Regions from separate parts of the Homo sapiens genome. Here regions 1, 2 and 4 are each reported to be linked to region 3. The links are microRNA targets in miRTarBase. Many come from high-throughput screens and were not tested one by one. Region 3 holds a microRNA gene; each other region holds the end of a gene's coding sequence.
What was found. The annotated mature microRNA hsa-miR-3074-5p reads GUUCCUGCUGAACUGAGCCAG and lies in region 3 at 4,271-4,291, opposite strand. An mRNA with a match to its seed (bases 2 to 7 or 8) in the 3' UTR can be bound and repressed. Matches are read on the target gene's strand: a 7mer-m8 pairs with bases 2 to 8, a 7mer-A1 pairs with bases 2 to 7 and ends in A, and an 8mer does both.

Region 1: miRTarBase lists CDH13 as a target of hsa-miR-3074-5p. Seed matches in the 3' UTR shown: 7mer-A1 at 2,737-2,743 and 7mer-m8 at 2,516-2,522.
Region 2: miRTarBase lists FBXO31 as a target of hsa-miR-3074-5p. Seed matches in the 3' UTR shown: 7mer-A1 at 4,631-4,637.
Region 4: the mRNA of SLC6A20 is a reported target of hsa-miR-3074-5p. Seed matches in the 3' UTR shown: 7mer-m8 at 6,467-6,473 and 7mer-A1 at 6,336-6,342.

Annotation. Positions count from the first base shown.
Region 1 is chr16:83,794,818-83,797,817 of GRCh38, reverse strand. It overlaps CDH13 (cadherin 13), which reads right to left. Exons shown (of 14, transcript NM_001257.5): 14 at 1-2,795. The coding sequence ends at 2,788. It overlaps CDH13-AS2 (CDH13 antisense RNA 2), which reads left to right. Exons shown (of 3, transcript NR_120308.1): 3 at 442-582. Among named protein-coding and RNA genes, the nearest start is that of CDH13-AS2, 7.7 kb to the left of the region's middle.
Region 2 is chr16:87,324,532-87,331,649 of GRCh38, forward strand. It overlaps FBXO31 (F-box protein 31), which reads right to left. Exons shown (of 9, transcript NM_024735.5): 9 at 2,456-6,979. The coding sequence ends at 6,757. Among named protein-coding and RNA genes, the nearest start is that of C16orf95-DT, 11 kb to the left of the region's middle. RefSeq lists an enhancer at 6,716-7,118.
Region 3 is chr9:95,081,793-95,089,435 of GRCh38, forward strand. It overlaps MIR3074 (microRNA 3074), which reads right to left and starts at 4,302; the gene lies at 4,222-4,302. It overlaps AOPEP (aminopeptidase O (putative)), which reads left to right. Exons shown (of 17, transcript NM_001193329.3): 16 at 783-927; 17 at 4,890-5,367. The coding sequence ends at 923. It overlaps MIR23B (microRNA 23b), which reads left to right and starts at 3,416; the gene lies at 3,416-3,512. MIR27B (microRNA 27b) reads left to right here and starts at 3,653; the gene lies at 3,653-3,749. It also overlaps MIR24-1.
Region 4 is chr3:45,752,366-45,759,148 of GRCh38, forward strand. It overlaps SLC6A20 (solute carrier family 6 member 20), which reads right to left. Exons shown (of 11, transcript NM_020208.4): 11 at 3,084-6,762. The coding sequence ends at 6,613. Among named protein-coding and RNA genes, the nearest start is that of SLC6A20, 41 kb to the right of the region's middle.

The DNA.
Region 1 (3,000 bases), not on the chromosome of region 3:
GTTGAGTATTAATAAAAAGAAGTGAAGGTGTGACTATTTGCTCAGTGGAAATAAAACCCTCAGACCTGTGCTCAGTAATTGGGAAAAGCAATTTCTGGTCCTTACTTGACTTCGTTTTTTAATAAGTTGGACTCAGATAAAATGCATAGGTAATAATGAAATAACATTTTGATTCTACTATGGTTTTCAGTAAACAATGTAATATATTCCAGCAAATGAACAAAACATCTTATGATTCAGGAAATGCTACCACTTTGGCCTATAAGAATTGGTTTATTTTCCTTTTTTTCTGGAAACTATTAGGAGGAACAACATGACAGAAGTATCTCTGTCCTGATTAGAACTGTGGGGACAGAGAATATGTTTAAATAAGGGAAAGTTGAGGCATATTCTATTTATTAATGAAGTGTGCACTTTACTCCTATTTTTCTGAATTTTCAGCGAAGTTAATCTTCTGGTTCGGTTCACAAAGTGCAGGAGAGCCTACCAGCTTGAGAGAAAAGGAGTCATGCTGTATTTGTTTCCTTGAGTGAATGGCCACTCAGCTGCTGTGTTTCTCCCTGCATGTGGCTGAAGTTTACATTGGAGGGTGACTTCCTGATTGCCAGTTAGCATATGTGTCCGGCTACCAGCCGCCTGACTGGCTGAGGATGCTCTTTGTTTGTTCAAGGATGAACGTTCTCCCCCTGCCTTGCAGGAAGAGGGGAGCAAGGTGCGCCCGGGAGACGCGTGACAGTGCCCTGTAAAGCCAGTAGAGGAAATCTTGTGGAGTGTGAATGCACAGGCTTAGATTCCCCTGTCCCTGAGTCGGGGGCATGTGCTCGTGGAGAATGACCCTATCAAGTTCAAGGTGTGGCATCTCCTGATCCAGCAACAGGATTTGTTCCAGAGAAAAATCCCCAGGTCTTGGGACTGTTGACAGATGGCCATGACTATGCTTAATGTGGTCATCAACTGAGAATGGTCCGTCTCATCTTTGAGTATGCAATTACCTTTATAGCTGATTATGACACCCTCAGATCATATCATGAGGTGGACAAGATGAGTCCATGGCCCATGCTGAGAACTGGTACTTCTGTCTTCATAGACTCACTCACCAACCAGAGATGTACGACGGACCCCAAATGGTCTGTCAAAAATGTGAACTTGCACTAAGACAAGACCCAACATCAGTGACATTGGACACAAGATAGAAATCAGAGAACAGTTACTGTCCAGCAGTTTTAACCACCAATACCCATTTATTTTAATGGAAAAAAAAATCTCTGCATTCTATATGTTCCAAAAGGATTTACCATTGAAACAAATACAATATATGGAACTCTATCTGTATAATTTCACTACAACAAAGACAACATATGACTTCTACTTCCTACAGAAGGCTAACTGAAAGCACAAGTGCAAACATAGATTGCATAAGAAAGCGTGTGTGTGTGCATGTGCGGTTAAAACCTTTAGTAAGCAACTGCATTAAAATATGCTAAGACACTCACCTTACCCTAGTTCGTGGCGAGCTCTAATAAAAAGCCACAAGCTGTCACTAGTTTTATTTGATAGAAAAATTTGGTGTGAGCTTTGATGATTCATTTATGGTTTATCAACAAGAAGGTAATCTTAGAACAAGCACTAACTTTCCGCTTTTACATGCTCACAGAATACAAATCAGTTACTTTTCATACATAATGAACGTCTTTTATTTTCGGGTTTGCAAACAACGGTAGTCAATTCACACAAAAGGGTACTTTTAAAACTACCTGTATTTACTCTATTTTATGCCTGTATATATGAAACAAACAGCGTGAATGTGCATAAATGTATGTCTGTACATGTGGGTATATATGTGTATACAAGATGGTACCTGTACACCTCTTTGTATGCATGTATGACCTCCATGATGACAGGTGCAGTTGTACATTTACTGAGGAGGGAGAGATTCTCTACCATGATCTGTGTCCCCATTAGAATCAGTACGACTGTGGATTCGGGACACATACAAATGCAGGTTGGTGCCCATGAAAGAAAATGTCAGCCCTTTTCTTGGCATTTGGTGGTGAAATTGCCTGCTCTGCTCCTCACCTCCTTGGCTCAGGATCACGGCATCAGATGGCAGTGTAAATTGGTTGTAGTCCTCGAACTCAATAAAGAGAAAGGACTTCTTTCTCTGCTCTCCCTCTCTGTGGACCTGCCTGGCTGGTTGTGGCAGCATTCAGACTGAACGGGACAGTGGAGAAGTAGCTTCGGAGCAAAAGTGACAGCTCTGTGGTCTGTCCTCATGCTGACCTTGATGCGGGAGGCCCTGGAGGGTTCAGGTGTCTTAGTTTCCACCCACCTTGCTTAACCTTGCAAGGAAGAATGGCATCAAAACGAGGCTTCTCCAGGATAGTCTCTCTCTATAAATACCGTGTATATATACATACAGATACTCATACATACACCAATACTAACCCACAGACAAAGCTGGGTGCCTGGAGCACTGGCTAGCGACATGTTAACACACCAGAAAAAGTAGTCATTGTTCCTGCTCCCAGAAGATCAAGTCATATGTCATGATCTTTAAACATTCAGGGAAAATTCAGAAGATTCCATTAATTAAAGGAGGGAGGAAGATGCTGTCAAAATGATGAAGTACAGACTAAGTGAAATTGTAAAGAAAATAAAAAACCGGAACAATTGAGGCCTAGTTGTGAAGTTCGATAGCTGTAAACCGCAATCTTCAGATTTGGATAGATTTTTTTTTTTCCTGTTGCTATGGAAACTTGGGAGTCAAGCTTCAGACGTCAGGAGTTCTCACAGACCTGAATAGAGAGGGTTCAGAGTTAAGTCGGGAATATCACCACTCAATTCAAAACATTTTAGCTAAAAGCCAGAAAAATGACAGGCAAGGTATAATAAACACATTTTAAACATCACACGACTATGGGGGAATTTTTTTTTTCCTTAAGGATCACATTGGAAGACAGAATGAATGGTTATATGGTAAAAAGCTGGACTTCTCTGAAA
Region 2 (7,118 bases), not on the chromosome of region 3:
TGCAGGGGCGCCTCCCCCTGGCCCTCCAGCACCTTTCCACCTTGCTTCCAGGACCTCCGCGGCTCAGAGGCAGTGCAGGTGGGCTTCAGGGACGGCAGGGAGGGCCCACGCCGGCACACAAGGAAGAAGGGAAGGCGCCAGGGATCGCACCCCTCAGGAAGAAGAGGGACGGAGGCAAAGATAGGAAGGACACGCATTGTGCCTTCTGTCACTTGGGGATTTTCAAGTCAAAATGGGGAGGGGGCCGGGGTAGGTTTGGAAACTATCCAAATGGCATTTTGTTTCACATTGCTGGCTGGGGGCAAGCCCTCTGCAGTGACCCTACATGCCCACTAGAGGTCACACCACAAAAGGGGACCTCCCCTAAGGAGGGGGGACAAACGGAGGACCCTGGGCACCGTGCCTCCTGCAAGGGGAGGAAGGATGAAGCCCCGCCATCCATCGGGTGGGGAAAGCGCCATGCCTCCGGCAGCACAGCCAAGCGGCCCCCACAGGGAGGAGTGAGCTCCATATGGGCCCAGGTGACCCGGCCACAACACCCTCTCGGCCTCCGCCTCACCTGCTGGTGTTGGGCATGGCCAGCCTGGGCAGCCACCAGCCCTCGCTGCCCATCTGCTGTCCCCTCAACCCCAGCAGCAGACAGAAAAGTGCAGGGTCTGAGCCCCCGGGGGGATGCTGGTGTCGGACAGATCCCTGGAGAACAAAGCCTGTGCCCTTGTGTCTAGGTGAGGCTGCGGCACCCAGGCCCGGAGCAGGTCCCCCCAGCTGGGCCATCCCCACTCTTGGAGCAAGAGGGGAACTGCAGCAGGAAGCAGCCTTCTACTCGTTCCCCATGACCTTATTTTTTTTTTCATTTTAAAATAAAATATGTAAGAGAAACATATGAAAGACGCCACATTTAGTCCCTTATCAGATCCACACTTCCCCCTGTGACCTGGGAAATCGGGGTGCGTCTCCAGTCTGTGGGGGGCAGGGTCTCGTCCAGACAGGAGGCTGCATGGTGCTGCTTGTAGCAAGTGACTCGTTTGTGGTTGGCACGCCCAGTGCAGCTGAGGATGACCCCGTGGCTTGGCCCCAGGACAGGACCCAGGCCCCACAGAAAGGCCTGGAAACAGCAGCAAACCTTAGAGAAGGAAACACCCACCACCGGGGACCCACGATCCCCTGCTCTCCCCGGAGAAGGAAACACCCACCGCCGGGGACCCACGATCCCCTGCTCTCCCTGGAGGGCACCCAGGAAGCAGCCGCAGCTGGCAGGCTATGTGGCAACCCCGAGACCAGCGGAGATGGCAGTGGGTGGGCCTGCAGGTCACTGCCCCTGGGCACTGTGTCCTGTCTGAGGGGCTTGTTTCTGAACCACACAGAAAAGAGGGGGGGTCTCGTAATCCACGGTATCAGGATCAACAGGTGAACAGATGCTAGTTCTGCCATGCGATCCTTACTTTTTAAAGCAAAACAGTTGAAGTTCTACCCTCCGACACCCCTAGAAGTGACCACACCATTCCCACGCGTATCTTCAGCTTTTCCCCACACATGAATTGATAAAAATTAAGTATTTGCATTTTTACATGTTACACCAATACCATCTCTCACTTGTTTTGCAACGGAACAAGGCTGTGTGCCCGTCTGCCAGGTGACAGCATGGGTGGCTCCACCGTAGTCCACCTGCCTCCTTCCGGCCTGTGACAGTTGTCACAGTGTAGCAATGAACATCCCTGCGTGGCCCATGCCTGGGCTCTCGCGTTGCCCGAGGGTGGACACCTCAGGATGCAGATGCCAGTCCCTGGGCCCGTGTCCTTAGTGCCATGAGCTAGTACCAGCTGTCCCCAAAACAGCTGCCCCACCTGCGTTCCTGTTCCCCTGCATCACTGCCAACACTTGGAAAATCACACTTGCCAATTTCTGCCAATCGAGGGTGTACTTTGAGTGCATTACCATGGAAAACATCCTGTTTCTACAATTCCAAGCTAACAGCATTAATTAGCAGCAGTGACTCACGGGGAGGCTGGGATGAGAACAGGGGGTACTTTCACTGTCTATGCTAAAGAACTGTTTACAAGAACATATGAGTTTAGTAAACACAAAAGAAAGATCAATGAGATCCTCAGTTCATCTGCCTGGCTCTCAGCACATTCCCTCCCATATCTGTCCTCGTTGCAGATAATGCAACTCACTTTGGCTTAAATCTAAGAAAATCTACTGGGGCCCGAACTCCTCTGGGTCCCTGGGTAGGGACTCGAGACACCTCTGATGCCAGGTCAAAGGGAAGGACACAGGGACAACCACTGTCTGGGCTCCAAGGCATCCCTTCAATGCTCCCTTCTGTCAACGCGGGAAATCTGACACTTCCTCAAGAAGCTGGGAAGTCTGGGTTCCCAGGCCGACAGCTCGCATGGCTTAAGGCTCTCGCCTCCGTCCAACTCATATTCCCAAAGAAATCACAAAACACACAACAAGCCTTCAAAAACGGATTTACTTGAAACTGTGAGGAGAAACAAGTGCACGGGTGCAGGTGGCGGCTGCCAGGATTGCTCCGGTCCTACCTAGTGGGTGCCTACCCAGGCAGGGCACAGCTCCTGCTGCAAGGTCACCTTACCAGGGGGTGCAGAGGTGCTCATGATCAGATGGCACAGCGCTTTCCTAATGCAGGCAGGCTACATGGCCCCCAGAAACAACCAAATGCAGAATCAGGCCAAAACCCACACAGCCCTGACCCCCTCGTGCTCTGGCTGGTCTCCCGGTCAGCAGCCCCTGAGGGCCGGCAGGCAGGCCACTGAGCTGTGGGTGACACAGGGTAGTCCACGGTTTGCACAGTCTCATTCCCATTCAAAGACAGGCCCCAAGGCTGGGGCGCAGGGGCTCACGCCTGTAATCCCAGCACTTTGGGAGGCCGAGGCGGGTGGATCACCTGAGATCGGGAGTTCGAGACCAACCTGAGCAACATGGCAAAACTCCATCTCTACAAAAACAAGTTAGCCAAGCATGGTGGTGGTGGGTGCCTGTGGTCCCAGCTACTTGGGAGGCTAAGGCGGGCAGACAGCTTGAGCCTAGTAGGTTGAGGCCTCAGGGAGCCATGATCGCCGCTCTGCACTCCAGCCCAGGTGACAGAGCAAGACCCTGTCTCAAAAAACAACAAAAAAAGTACCAGCCGCATGGAGACTATCTGCTGCTTGCATCTTCTCTAAATAATTACGGGGATGAGGAGTCCAGTGATGTTCCTGGTCTCTCCCCAGAAGTACAGACAGGTTGGGCCACGTTAACACTGGACTTGATCATGATTCCAGGAGTTTTATTCTCAGGACAGGTGATGGTTCTATGAGCACATTCCCGTAAGTGTTCTTAAAAGTTACACCACGAAGGCAGCAACCAGAATAGAAACATCCTAAAAGAGCCTAGCTGCTTTCTGCAGCACCTTGGACGGTGGACCACAGCTCAGCATCTCCTGTTCGCACCCAAGACCCCACGGCCATGAGGACAACACGAGCTCAGAAGATGCATGTGGGCAGGCGTTCTGAAGTAACAAAGGGGCTGAGGAGTTTCTGCTGCTGTCCGTGACTGCCCACGAGCACTGAAAATGGCCTAACCGTGTGCAGGTGAGAAAGCCTGGGGGTGAACACGCCCTGAGGAGTCAGGGAAGCCAGAGCCAGCGGCTGAAGGGCCCTTGCGTGCGGCTGCAGCACAACTGCAGGTTCTCAGAGAAAAATCTCCAGCTCAGACCCGGTTCTGCACAAAGCTCAGAATGGAGCGGCCAGCAGGGCATGTGGCTAGAGGAAGGACATGGCCACCCACCCCTCCCTCCTCGTGTGCCAGGTGGGCTTGCTAGGGGCACAGGTGCCCAGTGTCAGGGCAGGGATGCCACAGAGCCGCAGGCAGACTGAAGGGGCCCAGGGCATGGTCAGGAACGAAGAAGGAGGGAGCCTGAGGCTCTCCCACCACCAGGCCTGCAAAGCCACTCACACTCAGCAGTGGACACTTGAGGTCACGGCCCAGGTGGGCTGAGGGACCCCAATACCACCTGCCTTGAATCTCAGCCTGCAGAAGTCGTTTGCAACTTCCTCATGCAAATGAACATTCAGTGCCGGCACAGAAAAGCCTCCAATGACCTCTCTGAAATCTTCAATCACATCATTTCCAAACAAGTGACAAAGAACACGTTCAGGTGTGCAGAGCTGCACTGCAGGCAGCCCCACTCCAGAGAGCAGACTTGATCCTGCCCCAGAGTGAGACAGCGACAGAAAGGCATCCGTGGTGCAAAAGATGGAGAGTCCCAACCTCCCAACTCCACCTGCCACCTTCCCCAATCAAGCCTAATGCGCTTGGCTGTCCTGAACTGGGTTACTCAGCCTCCTCCTTGGAAACGGTTTTATCCAACTCTCAGCTGCCCTTAGGCCTCTGATGACGACATCAGCCCTTCCGAGTTCTCACCTGCAGGAAATGGGCCACCTGCAGGATCCCCTGAGAGGGTGGATGCCCTCCCCCGGAAGGGAAGCTGCTGTTTTGAGGCGCGCAGATTCAGTGCCTGTCCCTACAGAACCGGAGCCAAGAACTGGCTAAGGACACATCGGAGCGGAAAAAACAAGACCTGTAGTCACGACTGAAGGGACTGGCTGTGCGGCCAAAAAGGCCTCCCTTTCCTGGCTGTGTGGCTCTGGCCCTGCCTGGCATCACTGCAGGTCACCACCATGGAGAGACCCCCGCCCCCAACATACACACCAGAACCAGGAGCCACATGAACTGACCAACAGCCCATGGCTGAGACATGATGGGTGGAAGCTATTTCTATACCCAAACACTGGAAGCGTAATTGAGATCTGAGATTCCTTTAATCAGAAGCACGTGCGTCCCACAGTGTGCTCTTCAAGCCCCAAAGGGCACGCCTCTAGGACTGCGTCCCTTAGAGCGAGGCTCGGGCTCTTGGTAAAAAAGCATTTGCTTGATTTTATTTAAACAATGGTGAATCTTCAAGGTGCCAGTCTACATGCCCAACAGTCCTCCAGGCTTCAAGGCCACAGTCACCGTCACTCAGAGACTGCCTCATTTGGCAAGAGAGAAAAACAGTGACCACCACAGAGGGCAGGGAGTGACAAAGCTTGTAGGCTAATGCTGCAAAAGCCGCTAGAAACTGGGGCCACACACAAGAGCCAGCAGGTGCGCCTCGGGGTCTGCGTGGCTCCCGCTGCTGCCGCCCTGGAAGGGCGCTTTCTCCACTGGCTTTTCTCGTGAGTCTTTCTCCCAGGCCGGCCAGATTACCATTTAGGAACCTTTGCCAATTCTCTGACTCTGGGAAGCAAAGTAAGCATTTGCCAAATGCACTGAGGCTGGGCAATGGGAATTCTTATGTTCTTTAAAGGCCAGTCAAGGAGAAATTCATCAGGAAAACATTTCCCAGGACATCCTCAGGTTGGTCTCCACACCAAGGCACACAGACTGTCACCTTCCCGAGGTCCCTCACCAGCAGGACGTGTCCAGGGTGCCCAGCACAAGGACTTGGAGCAGCCCAGACACAAGGACAAGCGGCAGAGAGGGAAGGCTCGCTGGGGACGCCCACTCGGGCACGGAGCTGGCTGTGGGCTGGGGGAAGGGCCAGCTCTGGACACCGTGCTCTCTGTTCTTCAGGAGATGCCAACCTCAGCCAAGACCTCAGATGGGGTCCCCACACGCAGGTGTTAACACAACATGGGGCACACAGCAGTGGAGGCATCAGTCCATGGGGTCTCCAGGCTGGAGGGTCCCACTTTCCAAAGTGTGTCCCCAGATGCAGGTGTGGCTTTTCTAGAAAGCTGTCCCCTCACCTGCAAAGGGGTTTCCTCGTCATCTCATATGGGCACTCCTGGCACCTGTGTGGACCACTCACTGCTTCAGACACACGGGCCTGGAGCCTTGCGTTCTGGAGACAGTGGCCGGCAGCTTGGTTTTGACGCCGTGTGCGTGCAGGGAGGAAGGCATGGACAAAACAAACGCCCTGTCTGGAACAGGCCGTCGAGGACAGTCAAGTGGCTGGAACGATGGCCTTGGCTCCAAAGCTGGAGGGGCTGGGGCAGGTGCATGGGCTGGGCTGTGCATTCAGGTGACATTCCCTAGTGACTCAGGTCACTAAACCCACTCCACAGGTGGGGAAGCTGAGATCAGAGGTGAAATGCTTCTGTCCAAACTCCAAGCAAGCCGGTAGAGAAATGGGGATTCACTCCAGAGTCCCGGCCCCAAGCCTGAGATCCTACCAACTTCCCGAGCTTGCTCTGCGTACTGTGCCCATCACACCTGCGCTGCCTGAGCTGTTCGCCTCTTCCTGACCCCCTCCCAGAGGCCACTGTTGCCTGGCTTCCCCCAAAAGGAGTGGGGTGGAGCACATGCGTCTCACACACGACCCAGTCTATCACTCTATCCGCTCACAGGAAGAGCACCAGTCAGGAGGGTCCTGCTTCCCGAGAAAACCACCAGCCAGCCCAGGGTGCGGGAACCCCACCGCTTCAATTCTCACGCGGTCCCACGGCTGTCCCCTACATCTGCTGTATTCAGGCTCGTTCTCTCTGTTTTTGGTAAGACATGCTCAGCTTCTTCCATCATGGCACTGACAAATATGCAGGTCTATGTCACACTCTCTACATAAAGTGCTGGGGGGTGGCTGGACTGGGCCCCCCGACGAGGTGTGCGTTCTGGTCAAAAGGCCGGATTTCCAAAGTGCATGCTGCTTCTATTCACAGGTCAGAGTTCAGAGCCCCAGAGCCACCCGGGATGTGGCGGCAAGGATGTGGCCGGTCAGGAGGTGAGGGACTGAATGTTCTTGAGCATCTCATCGAAGGCCTGTGGGGACGGCGCATCTGCGTTCCGGAAGGTGGCCTGGACCCGGCTGTACAGGCTGAAGGATTTCAGCTCCAGCCAGACGAACCCGAAGCGGTCCTCATCGAAGAGGATGAAGACCCCGGGGGTGCGTTCAGGGCTGGTGAAGCCGTGGCCCGCGATGAGGCCTGTGCCATAAAAACTGAGCAGAAACAAGAGGGAAACTGTGAGCTGGGGGAGGGCTGAGTCAAATGCACGCCACGTACAGCATTCTGCGACCCCGCTCTGTGCCGCAAGAGCCACATCCACTGTTCATCAGCCAGAAGCTGACTCCCAGAGCC
Region 3 (7,643 bases):
TTTGAACCCTTAACTACGAAGTTTTGCTCTTGCGATGTCTTTGAGACCCTTCTTTTAGTTTACTCCAGCGGAATGTAACTCGTGGCATAACTAAGCATGGCACAAGAGAGTAGACAGATCCAGATGGGCCCTTGGGTCTTCTAGAACGTCCTTGGCTATTTTAAAAATACAGGAAAAATGCAGATGTGAGTGTTTGCGGCATTGTTCCCAAGCAGCAGAGCCGGTGCGGGCTACGGTGCAGGGCTGTGGAGGAAAGGGCGCAGGCGGGGTGGGCGTCTCTGCGGGCATCGTGATGTGTCTCTGCCGCGGCTGCTGCCTGCTGTGCTCTTTGCTTCCCTGGCAGGTGAAGGACTTCCCGGATGAGCTCAGACCAGCTACTCCTAGGGACACACTTTGCGGGGCAGGAGTCCCGTGTCTGTAATGCCACACAGGCTCTCCGCGTGGTAATTCTGGGAACCATCTCTGTCTGTTCAGAGCGTTCCTGACACGGCCATCATGGTGGGAATGCCTGCTCATCGTTCTGTCACCAGTGAAATCGTCAGAGTCTGTGTAGAGAATTGGGAGCTGAGGATTCCTTGGGGTTTTGAGTACAAGGAGGAGACAGGGATTGCAGACTGCAGCTTCCAAAAGCACAGTCAGCCCACGGCCTCTGTCTTCTCTGGGGTCTTTGCAATTTCTAGACCAGCAAGTGTGTGTGGAACAAGCACAGACTGAGCTCATGTGTGCGTGTGTGTGGGTACCCACACCTTCGCCTGATGCCCTTTGGCCTCTGTGCCCTGCAGGCCATGGGTGTGTACCTCTACGGGGAGCTGATGGTGAGTGAGGACGCCAGACAGCAGCAGCTCGCCCGTAGGTGCTTCGAGCGGACCAAGGAGCAGATGGATAGGTCCTCAGCCCAGGTGGTGGCCGAAATGTTATTTTAACGAGGTGATTCTCTCCCTTTCCTTTCTGTCATTTAGTTCTAACCAGATACTCCTTTTAGGAGCCAACTAAATCAGTAAGCCGAATAGTTAGCCAAGACTACCCGCAGCATCAATAGTCGGCTCCCTGGCCCAGGGCCTGGAGAGTAACTGGCCAAGTGGGTGCTGGGCTGGTATGGGAGCCCCGGGTCCCTGGAGCACCTTGCCTGGCTGTGGCAGTCACCGGGAAGCAGAGGCTGTCCACCTGGAGGCACAGCGGCACTCCTTGGCACTATTTTGGCCACTTCAGGTTTTATAATCTGTTGAAACAAAAATTGTGGGGGAACATCTTGAGTAGGTTTAGAGATGGAATGGGAAGCCTGGCAGAAGCGCTGGTCCAGTCTTCAGGGTCACGGCTGATACAGGAGTTTAAGCGGCCGTGTGACTCCAAAGCCTAGCTTCTGCAAGCAGATGTTTTCTTCTAGCCATGTGTGAATTGGAGGTTCCTTGGGCTGTCCACGCCTGGTCATCGGCTGGCAGGAGGCTCTCCAGGCACACGCAGCACACACAGCACATGCACCACACGTAGCACACACACTGCATGCAGCACACACACACCAGAGGACGCACCACACAGAGCACGCACAGCACACACCACACAGCGCACGCACCACACAGAGCACACGCGGCACACACAGCACACACAGCGCACGCACCACGCAGAGCACACACGGCACATGCAGCATACACACCAAACAGCGCACGCACCACACAGAGCACACGCGGCACACGCAGCACACACACCACACAGAGCACCTGGAGCACCCACAGCACACACACCACGCAGAGTACACGCGGCACACACACCACACACAGCGCATGCACAACACAGAGCACACACAGCACATGCACCACACGTAGCGCGCACACTGCATGCAGCACACACACCACACACAGCGCGTGCACCACACAGAGCACCTGCGGCACACACAGCACACACCGCACGCACCACACAGAGCACATGTGGCACACACAGTGCACGCACCACACAGCACCCGCGGCGCACACAGCACACGTGGCATATGGCCTCCATGACCCTGTGTCTTGAGGGCAGGTCCTACTTTTTGCTTTGTTGTGTTGGAGCGGAATTTCTCCCCTGGCTTCTATTGGAGTCCTAGATTATTTAAATCACTTCCTCTGTTAATTGTGCCTGGAATTAACCTGTTAGATTTACTTCCTAGCAGTTAGTTGCTCAGTATGGGTTTCTACACTATTAAAGCAACCTAGCGGTAGTACACAAGGTTTTGTTAGGATAGCTGTGAGATTTTTTTTCTCTAACAATCATCATTATTTCTGTGTCTGCTCCGTTTTTCTTCAGTGTTTTATATGATATTAATAGGGGATGTCTAATTTTGTATCTTTAAAAAAACTTTATCAAATCTGAAGCATTTTTCGTGTTATAGCTTCTCTATAATTTTTCATGGATATTGAATATTTGGTGTTGATATTCTTCACTCAGTTTTGAACATTGAGTTTTCTTCTAATGTTTTGTGCTTATGAAAACCATTTCTGTGTAACGTGTTTAAGTAGCTTATTTATCTGAAAGAACTCTAATAATGAAAAGAAATAAAAAGTTTTTCAGAAGCATGATCATATTCTTCCAGAAGAGTCAGGAACCATGTGTGCCAGGAAAGGGAAACGGGACTGAGCGTCTCGTAGCGAAACGCCTGCTGCAGACTTGACGCGGCTCCCCTCCAGGACGGGCTGGCGGCACACAGACTGTGCACTTACCTCACTGCCGGCCTCATAATAGTAATCAGTGTAAATGGTGTTTCTCTTTCGTTTTGTTATTTCGTGGCGTACGTGTTAAAGTGTGTGAAACTACAAGGCCAGCTAGTCCTTTCATCATTCCCTTTGGTGCAGGTTTTGGAGCAGCACCACAGGGCACACCCCTCGCCACTCTTTATGGGGAATTTTTGCCCAGGCAGGCAAAGGAGTCATCTTGGTCACAAGTCTCCCTTTTCCCCCTCCCCAGCATCTTCGATCCTGTCCCCACCCCTCCAGATGCATCCAGGGGTTGCAAGCCTGCCCCCCAACCAGTCCCCGTGAGGAACAGTGGCCGGGATTGTCCCAGGGCCCCTTCCAGCAGGGGGACCTCCTGACTTGAGAGTCCCCAAAGCCTTCCCAGGGCAGCTAGAATCTGCCTGGAGAGAAGGGATCTTGTCCCCAAGGGTTAGAGGCAGTAAACTAATAGCAAGGACAGCTGCCTTTAGCAATTGTGTGTGTCGCATGGCCGGTCCCTGCATTTTTCTTCAGTTCCAAAGCTGCACTGGCATTTTTATGGTCATCTCTGGAGTCCCTTTGATTCAAGAAATTATACCTCTAGGATGCCAACTAAACGAACAACAAACAGAAACTCCACCTGTTTGCTAGCATAACAGGCGTGAAGGCGGCAGTGTCGCCGGCGTCCTTCCGCGGAAGCCCAGTGTGTGCAGACAGCACGGGGTGGCGCTGCTCTCAGGTGCTCTGGCTGCTTGGGTTCCTGGCATGCTGATTTGTGACTTAAGATTAAAATCACATTGCCAGGGATTACCACGCAACCACGACCTTGGCTGCTCCTCCAGAAACCGTGGTCGCGCTCACTGCAGATTGGAGAACAGGTGCATCTCGTAGCTCTTCTTTGGAAACAAAAGAAGCCACCAGCTGAGGAAGATGCTCACCGGTCACCGTCCCTTTATTTATGCCCAGCGATGACCTCTCTAACAAGGTGCAGAGCTTAGCTGATTGGTGAACAGTGATTGGTTTCCGCTTTGTTCACAGTGGCTAAGTTCTGCACCTGAAGAGAAGGTGAGATGGGGACAGTTAAGTTGGAGCCGCTGGGGCAGAGGCCGTTGCTGACGGGCCGGCCGCTGCTGCACAGTCAGCTTGGGTGCGGAGCGCGATCCTGGAGGATGAGAGACCACTTGACCCCAAGGATGCACTGTCTCCTGCTGGGAATGCTAGCCATGTACTGAGTCCTTAAGTCTGTCCACAGAAACATGCACTAATCGGACATCTGTCTGAAAGGTCAAATGTATTGAAAGTTGCAAAAATTCTTCTTACAAAAAACTAAAACCAAATGCATCACCTAAGTCGTGTGAAATCATGTGGTAGCTCATGGCTGTGAGCGGGGCGGGGCGGGGCTTTCGGAGGAGCTCCTGTTGTTCTGGGCGCGGTGAACTCTCTCTTGTATTTGCAGTCCAGGCCTTCGCGTCTCCTGCGCCAGCAGACGGTGCCCACGGAGCTCCCAGCTGAGGCGCTGCTTCTCCGGGCTGTCGATTGGACCCGCCCTCCGGTGCCTACTGAGCTGATATCAGTTCTCATTTTACACACTGGCTCAGTTCAGCAGGAACAGGAGTCGAGCCCTTGAGCAAAAAGCCTTCGTGTCTGTAAGTGCCCGAGGCTCAGGAGAGCTGGGGCTCCCACTCGCGGCAGACAGGCCCGCGTCCACCCTGCGTCCACCCCGGCCCGGCGGCAGCACGGTGCCAGTCATCTGCATGTGCTCCTGCGGCGTGGGGGTTTGTAGACTTGGAAAACCCTGTTGGCAGAAAGTTAAGAGCTCCCAGGCCTGAAGGCAGGACACAGTGCCAGCAGGGGGCCGTTTGCCCCCATGTGTAAGGGAGGCAGGGCCCAGCTCTCCCACGGCGAGGTGAGCTGAGACTTTCTGAGAACAGTTAGAGTGGGTGCGTGTCTGAAATGGGTACTCCTAGCAGCTATTGTGTACGCAAAGCCTGAGTACAGCCTGCTGGTGTCATGGCCACGTGTGAGCAGGCCAGCGTCACACGGCTCGCTGTGACCCGTCCCGGAGACTGAAATGGGCCTGGGTCTTCTCCTTGTCCTGTGATTAAAGTCCTCTCTTGAAAGTGGAGAGCAAAGGCACACAGAGGTGCGCGCTCACAAGAATTCCTCCCGGTGACTGGGTAATCAATGTTACTGCTGTTTCCTTTGCAGGAAAGACCACAGCAAGATTCTTTCATTCGTCTCCTCCTAGCCTGGGGGACCAGGCTCGAACTGACCCTGGACATCAAAGGAGGGATTATGTGGCTGCTAAAGCCATCGGCCCACAGCCCTGTTCACATCTTGGTGCTTCTCTTTCCCAGAGGCTGGTCCCAGCCAGGCACACACAAAAGGCAGATTCTCGTAAACGCAGCCTCCCTCCCTGGAGGCTGCCTCCTGCCCTGGATCTGGAGTGGAGCTGCTCTGAGATTTTGAGTTCTTCTGCAGAGATGATTAAATATATCCAAGAGACATTGGAAAACCTGCTGAACATTTTACATTGGTCTGCTCAGCACATGGCTGGATGCGGATATTTCTATAATTCCAGAAAGTCACACAGCTCCTCTGTATGAGACCAGTGGGCGCCATTTAAAAGAACAGGATGAGAATCTAAGATATATTATTAATAAATGTAATGGATTTTTTTTTTGTATACGTGTTTGCTTCTAAATTTCATACTGTTTAAAAATAATAAAGGCCAGGTGCGGTGGCTCATGCCTATAATCCCAGCACTTTGGGAGGCCGAGGTGGGTGGATCACGAGGTCAGGAGATCGAGACCATCCTGGCTAACATGGTGAAACCCTGTCTCTACTAAAATACAAAAAATTAGGCGGGCGTGGTGGTGGGCACCTGTAATCCCAGCTACTCGGGAGACTGAGGCAGGAGAATCGCTTGAACCCAGGAGGTGGCAGTTGCAGTGAGCCGAGATTGCGCCACTGCACTCCAGCCTGGGCGACAGAGCAAGACTCCATCTCAAAAAAAAAAAAAAAAAAAAAAAAAAAGCACGTACAAGAAAAAGGTATTCTCCACATTCTGGTGTTCCCCCCCCACCTCACTAGTTTCTTTGTTGTTTTCAAGGTAGTGTTAGTTCTCTTAGAAGCCTGAAAACAAAAGTAATTTGGCTGCGCGTGGGGCACCCTCTTCCGATAAAATGGAGAGCCTGGGCATATTCAGGCATCGTGGGAGTCTGGTGGTATGATTTTTCTTTCTCCACAAGGTTTAGGGTATAGACAGAAGCTGGGCACTGAGCTTCCTTGGCACTGTCCATGGGGCAGAATGTTTGAAAATGCCTGGAGAAGGCTGTAGGAACGGGTGCAGCCATGGGCCCTGTGCCAAGTTGGGCTGAGCATGAGTGCACCTGAACACACCCACAGTCTCCTCTGCCTGGCTCCAGGGGGCAGCACAAATTCTGGCCTGTTTGGGGTGAAGTGGGGCTCTACCATGGATCTCATTAGAAGCTCTGGACTGGGAGGCCTTGGTCTCCAGAACTCTCTTTTCTTGTCCCAGTGACTGATTCCAGAACGTTCTTAGGATTTGCTCTCTGCTGTCACATGCCTTTGCGTGGGACTGTATAGCTGGCTGTGCCATCGTGGAGGATGGCTCAGAACTTGACTGTTATGTTTGAATAAATACACGACCGCGGCTTCCTGTGGAGATTTAGAATGAACGATGCTTTCTCTCTGTGTGCTGCTGCCTTTTTTTTTTCCTTCCTTTCTTTTTTTTGACAGTTTCACTCTTGTTGCGCAGGCTGGAATGCAATGGCACGATCTCTGTACACTGCAACCTCCGCCTCCCGGGTTCAAGCGATTCTCCTGCCCCAGCCTCCCGAGTAGCTGGGATTACAGGCTCCCGCCACCATGCCCAGCTAATTTTGTATTTTTAGTGGAGATGGGGTTTCACCACGTTGGTCAGGCTGGTCTCGAACTCCCGACCTCACGTGATCCACCTGCCTCGGCCTCCCAAAGTGCCGGGATTATAGGCGTGAACCACTGTACCCGGCCTCTCTCTCTCTCTCTCTCTGCGCTTTCTAAGTGTGTTTGGCTTTCACTGAGGCAGAGCCAGGAAGGACCGTGGGAGTACCGGCCGCACTGCCCTGCGAGGCTCCCACTCCCACTGTGTGCAGATGCTTGGCACCTGGAGCTCTCAAGAGCTGCGGGTGGCTCACCGGCCCAGTGGTTTGGGGTGACCTTGCTTTTCCAAAAAGTGAAAGCCATGCTTTATCTTCTTTAGAAACCACTAAAGCAAAGCTGAACTGCTGAATAGGTGGGGTTCTGCACAAAGACCACTAATCCCCTGGCTCCTGTGAGTCACCGGGTCTTGTGACTTGCTTTGACCACCGGGGATCTGGCCAGTGGGTGGCATAAATTTGGTGGACCTCATCAGAACCGGACATTGCTGTCACGGATTTGACTGAGGTCCTGCCAGGAGTCGGCCTTTGCTGCCTCCAGACCTGGGGGCACCCTGCCCGTGCTGGGGCTGCCCCTGGAGGTGAGGGAGGGAGGAAGCCGGAGAGCAGCTCCGCCACTCTCTCCAGGCAGGAGGCTCCCCGAGGCTCTGCAACTGCCCTCGCCGGCATCCTTCACCCGTGCCTCAGCTGACTCTGAATGGGTTCTGCTAGCTGCTCCTCTGGCATCTCCTAAGAGACTTGAGAGAACCTCCACCCAGGGCCTGGCAGAGAGGCCTCTAGATTCCAGCCTGAGAGCAAACCGGGGTCTCGGGGTCAGTAGGAGACAGATGTGACCAGTACTCTTCCATTTTTAAGTGAAGTATCACATCAGAAACTAGCTCAGATCAAAGGGCGTGTGACAACTGAGGCTAGAACGCTCACTGCCTTAGCCCAGCCATAGCACCTTCGGAGAGCAGGGCTGTCTGCACGGGACATAGTAGTTTTGGATGAAGACGGGCTGTCTGGAAGAGCAGGATGTGGG
Region 4 (6,783 bases), not on the chromosome of region 3:
GCACACACCTGCTGAGAGATCCGGGTAAGTCTACGAGTGGGGAGTCTTCCCTGGTGTCCAGCGCTCATCCTTTCCTGCCTCTGGCCTCGTTCCTCTGGGCTGGACATCCATGCAGAGGCTCCATGATGTGCTCTCACTGGGGGACCAATTAGTAAGGGGCTGTGACACGTTTAAGTGAATTCCCTGGTCCCAGGTGAAGGAGTTAGATGATCTGTTTGTTCCTAACACTTGCCTTGGTAGATTATTCTGAGCATGAATTTGCTTTTTGTTTTTGTTTAGTCAAAGGTTCAGGTGTTCATCTTTCTCCATTCACCATTTTCAGTGATGCATGCCTATTGCCCTTTATTCTAGTTGTACAAACCTAAAGTACCATCCACTAAAATACTGTGTTAACATTTTATGTCCCAAATCAAGCTCCTATTATAGTTGGGTTCAAATATAGACTAACATTAGGAAAAGTAGAAAGTGTTAAGTGGTAAGTCATGTTTAGCAGAATTTATGATGTTCTCTCTGAGCTTCTGGGACCACACATTCTCCTGGGTTTTGTTTTTGTTTTTTGTTTTTGTTTTTTGTTTTGAGACAGGTTCTTGCTCTGTCACCCAGGCTGGAGCGCAGTGGTGCAACCTCTGCTTCCCAGGCTCAAGTGATCCTCTCACCTCAGCCTCCCGAATAGCTGGGACTCCAGGCATGCATCACCAGGCTTGGCTAATTTTTGTATTTGTTGTAGAGACGAGGTTTTGCCATGTTGCCCAGGCTGGTCCCCAGTTCCTGGCCTCAAGCGATCCGCTGGCTTGGGCCCCCCAGTGTTGGGATGACAGGTGTGAGCCACCACACCTGGCTGCTCCATTCCTTGTTAATCTCTCCTCTCTACTTCACAATGCTGTGAGTCAGGAATTCAGGCAGAGTTTGCCTGGGTGATTCTTCTGTTCCAGATGGCACTGATGGAGGTGACTCAGTGGCATTCATTTGACAGATGGGCTGGTCTGTCTGGCCCAAGCTTGTCTGGTGCCCAGGCATGGCTGGAAGGTGGACTCAGCTGGTCCTGTGAGCTGGAGTACAGCAGCCTCAGGGTGGTGGGGCTTCATTCATGGCAACTTAGGGCTCCCCAGGTGAATGTTCCAACAAACCAGGTTGAAGCTGCATGGCCACATGATCTAGCCTTGAATGTCAAATGGTGTCCCTTCCATCATATTCTTTTGGTTGAAGCAATCACAAGCCCACCTAAATACACAGACCCTATCCCTCCGTGGGAGAGGTGGAAAATCACATGTGGCCATGTCCGAAAACACATTGGAGTTCCTGTAGGCCTTGGTCGCAGGCCCTCTTCTTTGTGTATACTCACCCTGGATGACCTCATTTAGACCTGTGGCTTTAAATAGCATCTCTCCACTGTAACTCCCAAATGTATATCTCTAGCCCAGACGTAACCCAACCTCCAGATTCTTGTGTTCAACAGGTTACTGGATATTTCCACCTAATTCACAGACATCTCAAACTTCACATGGTCAAACCACTCTTGATTTTTACTCTGCAGGCCAGCTCTGTTCCCCACTTTCCTCATCTCCGGAAATGGCACCAGCATCCCCCCAGCAGGTAAAGCTCTTTATCCCCCTTTCCCTCAGCTGGGAATCCAACCCATCAGCAAGACTTGGCAACTTTCCCTCCAAAGTATAACTCAAGCTTGCCTATTTTTCTCCATATCCATTCCCACGTCCATGCTGCCATCATCTTCCATGGCTTTACTACAGTAGATTCTGGAGTGATTTTCCAGCCTCCCTTTATGCCCCGCTCCCATCCATCCTCTATGGCAACAGTGATCTTTCAAACATAAATCAGATCTTGCCAGACCCCACAGTGAACCCTCAGTGGCACTCTCTTTCTCTTCAACGAAAATGAAGCTCCTTGCTGTGGCCTGTGAGGCCTTATGTGATCTGGCCCCTGCTCCCTCCTCCAAGCTCACTTCCCATCGCTCACTTTCCCATTCCAACCACAGGCCTCCTCTCTGCTCTTTCCCTCCTCAGGGCCTTTGCAGTTGCTGTCACCTCTCCTGGACAGGCCTTCTAGGAATTTTAATGACTCGTTCCTTCTTCTTCAAATTTCAGTTCACGAAGTTCCTCAACCGCTTAAAGTACTGTCCTGTTAACGCCACCACATCGGGCCATTTATTTCCTTCTTAGACATGATCACAGTCTGTAATCATATGATTTATTTGTTATGCATCATTGTCTGTCTCCTTTTCCAGAATGTAAGTGCCATAAAGGCCAGCGACTGTGTCTATCCTGTTCACCATTGCCCCCGGCGCATACCAAGGGACTGGTTTGTAATATACTAGTTGGGTAATCTCAAAAAAGGCTGATCCACCCACCCTACAGGAGGGTGAATAATAGAAAAGTGATCCACATGTAAGAGACTGGTCAGGAAATTCAGGTTAAGAATTTGCTATTTGTAGATGCAATTTTTGCCTTGCAAAGGGATGTGTAAATCTGTTATTTTTTTCTTCCCCTGACTGATGTAGGGCAGAAAATCGGCTTAGTTAATTCTCTACCCCAGCTTTTCTACCTATAAGGTGGCATAAGTTAATTTTTCCATGTAAAGTAACTCATACAAAAATCAAATACAATAGTTTACACACTCCCCCCTCTGAGGTGAGGCTCTGAGGTCACATTCAAACCTAATGTGGTTCTGCATGGCCCTGGCCAAAAAGAGACGCTGAGATGGGCAAGACTGCCCGGGACACTCTCAAAAGGAGTGGCAAGATTCTGCAGCAATTCCAAGGGGCTCACATTCTGTTTTAAATCCGGCCAATTAGAAATTTTTTTTCTAACTTTTCTTGTGGACTCTATCTATCTCTCATCTTCCCATGATAGACTTCATCCACTGCATTGGTGCGGTCTCACGGGTTATATGAAGAGGTAAACGCAGAAAAGGGTGACAGAAAAAAAGGTTGGATGGATTTGTCCCCCCCACTTATTTTCCATTTTTTCAAAATTAGCTTGTGTTTCTACATGAGAGAAAATCTTGTGTTGAGAGAAGTCTTAAACTGTATCCAGTAAGTGACAAAAGCAAAACCCAAAACCAAAAACTGTAGATACACTTGCTTAGAGTTTTATTTACTATGACAATTGCTAAAAAACAAATATTTCCCTACTCAATTTCTTGGAGCTAAATCAAGGTTTGCTATGTTTCCAGTAAAAACAGAAAGCTTTCCGGAGTCCATGATCTGGCCATCGTGTCATGGCTACCACTAAGGGTACAGGGATGGAATGTCCCTTTGTCGCTCCAGCTTATTGGAGGGTGGGTGGACAAATGTCGACATGGCCACTTTTGTGCAGTATCTAGGAAATGGCAAAGAACATTTTTTGAGACAGGATTGATTACTGGCTCAAGAGGATTCTTGAGAAATGTTCTGCTCTTCATGAAATTCACAGAAACGAGACATTTTCATCTGGAGCACATTATTCTGTAACAGTGGTGCTTCATCTGTTTGAGTTCCATGAGCAAAAACTATTCCGTAGAAGTAACTCTTCCATATAATTGGAAATGCTCAAAAATGCCTTCAAATTTTTAAGTCATTTTATAAAATGTAAATACTCCTCAATGTACCACCCATGTTCTTTCTTTTTTAAATGGGGCCTCTCAGATTTGGCTGCACATCGGATCACCTAGGGAGTTTTTGGGGCCATGGAGGCCCAGGTCTTGCTTCCAGAAGGTCTGATGGGTGGCCCCAGGGTGTGGTGTGGGCATCTGGAGTTTTAAATGCTCCCAGGTGGTTGGAATGCGCTGCAAGGTGGGGACACTGAATAAGGTAATGATCTAGGACATTTATCTTTTCACTCCTGAGGCTACCTGGTATTCAAGGCTTACGCACCCTGACTGATGACTGATCCCAGGTGGCCCTGAGTTGTAAGACGGTGACTGTGAGTGGGGATTGAGAGGAGGGCCAGATCCTCCAGGATTCAGAGCAGACTCGGTGCTGTGTTTGCCATTGAGTGTGCCGGCTCTTCAAGCCTTGACAGCAGGTTTTTTGACATAAAAGAACCTTCTGATAAGAAGATTGAATCCACGGGGTAGATAAGATTAAATCCATGGGGTACATGCTGGTTCATACATTTGAAAGTCAAATGTATGATAACTGGACAATCAGGTGAAGCTGGAAGATGAGATGGTTGCTGAAGACAGTAGAAGACCTTTCTAAAGCCTATTTTTGCTGTAAGAGAATTTTACAGCACAAAAATAAAAAGACATCTCCGGCCAACGTCCCAGGTGAGTGTTTGTGTCTTCAAAGATATCTGTGCAAATATATCCACAGAAACTCTCCAGAATTCCATGATCTCAAGGAAGCACTGGACGTTAGAGCAGGAAGGGACTCGCTCACTTTAGGGGTAACGACCTACTTTATTGCAGTTAAAAAAAGAAAAATTTTTTTGAGAAAAGAAATAAGACACAGAGACAAAGTATAGAGAAAGAACAGTGGGCCCAGGACCGGCGCTCAGCATGTGGAGGACCCGCACCGGCGCTGGCCTCTGAGTTCCCTCAGTATTTATTGATCATTATTTTTACTGTCTTAGCGAGGGGAGTGTAGCAGGGCAACAGGTGGGAAGAAGGTCAGCAGGGAAACATGTGAGCAAAGGAATCTGTATCACGAATAAGTTCAAGGAAAGGTACTGTGCCCAGATGTGCACGTAGGCTAGATTTATGTTTCTCTTTACCCAAACATCTCAGTGTAGCAAGGAGTAACAGAGCAGTATTGCTGCCAGCATATCTCACCTCCAGCCACAGGGCGGTTTTCTCCTATCTCAGAATAGAACGAATGGGAATGGTCAGCTTTTTACACCGAGACATTCCATTACCAGGGACAAGCAGGAGACAGAAGCCTTCCTCTTATCTCAACTGCAAAGAGGCCTCCCTCCTTCACTATTCCTCCTCAGCACCGACCCTTTACAGGTGTCGGGCTGGGGGACAGTCAGGTCTTTCCCTTCCCATGAGGCCATATCTCAGGCTGTCTCAGTGGGGGGGAAACCTTGGACAATACCCAGGCTTTCTTGGGCAGAGGTCCCTGCAGCTTTCTGCTGTGCATTGTGTCCCTGGTTAATCGAGAATGGAGAATGGCGATGACTTCTACCAAGCATACAGCCTGCAAACATATTGTTAACAAGGCACATCCTGCACAGCCCTAAATCCATTAAACTTTGATTCATTACAGCGCATGTTTCTGTGAGCACAGAGTTGGGGCTAAAGTTATAGGCTAACAACATCTCAAAGCAGAAACAATTTTTCTTAGTACAGATCAAAATGGAGTTTCTTATGTCTTCCTTTTCTACACAGACACAGTAACAATCTGATCTTTCTTTTCCCCACATGGACTAATGCGATATCATAGATATGGTGTGTCTTCAGTTACAAGATGCTCTGTTTGAATTATATACATTTTAGAAAACTATGTACAGATGAATAATTTAAAATTAATTGTAAGTGGTATTTGTGGTCTTGATAGAGTTGGCCACGATGTCCAAATGTAATATTAAGCCTATGGGAAAGTCAGAGCCACTTTTTTTTTTTTTTTTTTTTGAGTCAGAGTCTTGCTCTGTCGCCCAGACTGGAGTGGAGTGGCATGATCTTGGCTCACAGCAACCGCCACCTCCTAGGTTCAAATGATTCTTGTGCCTCAGCAGCCAGAGTAGCTGGAATTACAGGCCTATGCCACCACTCCCAGCTAATTTTTTTGTATTTTTAGTAGAAATGGGGTTTCGCCATGTTGGCCAGGCTGGCCTCAAACTCCTGACCTCAAGTGATCCACCCACCTTGACCCCCAAGGTGCTAGGATTACAGGCGTGAGCCACCGTGCCCAGCTGAGATCCACTTTCATTCTCACCTCACAGTGGCTCCTGACTCCTTTTCCAATGCACCAAGACACACACCACGGAGGGATGTCTGCACAGACTTCTAATGTGGTTTGGGGTTGCAAACTGTAGTTGGGGCAATTTTTTGTAGAGAGGTCTGGTCCTGGACCCACCGTCAGAGACCTTAGAGAAAGGATCCCTTTGGGGGTCCCAGACAAAGATCTTCTTTCTTTATAACTTGTCATCCTAAGATTTAAAGGGTGGAAGGGGAACACAGAAATTGCATATTCACTACAACTCAAAAAAGAAGAGAATTAATTTTGCACCACTGACAAATAGGTCATCTTAGGCACTTCAAAACTCCTTAAATGGATCTAAAAATATTTGTCCTCTAATATTTTGGTGTCTCTTCAGCCAAAAACAAAAATTGCTTAAATTTGGTCCCATAAGAATTATAGTCATATTTCAGTTTGCAATGTGCCCTAATTCTAGGGCTTTCCTGGAATGAAGGATGCAGTTATCTTTGAGACCGGCTTTCATAGCCCACCCCCTTCCATGATGAGGAGGCAGGTGACAGGGAGGAACAGCCACCACGGGAGGGTGTGCGTTCTCCCAAGGGAGTTTTCTTCCTGCACACCTTCCTCATCTTCTTTAGACACTCAGGAAGTTGATGGGCTGAGCACTCCTGGCTTAAGCATTTGAAAAAGCAGCCGAGGAGTTTCCGCCTGTAAATAGTATCTGTAAAACCGTGAGCGGCTGGGAAGCCCACATCTCAGGCCACGGGGTCTGCGTCTCCCCTCTTGAGGCGACGCTGAACAAAAGTCCCCAGGGCCGCCAGGGGGATGCACATGGTGGAGGAGGCCACAAGCAGCCCGATGACAGCCAGTGCATAGGCCGGGTAATCTTTGGTCACGAGCTGGCCCTGAAAGGAGAGACTGAGTGT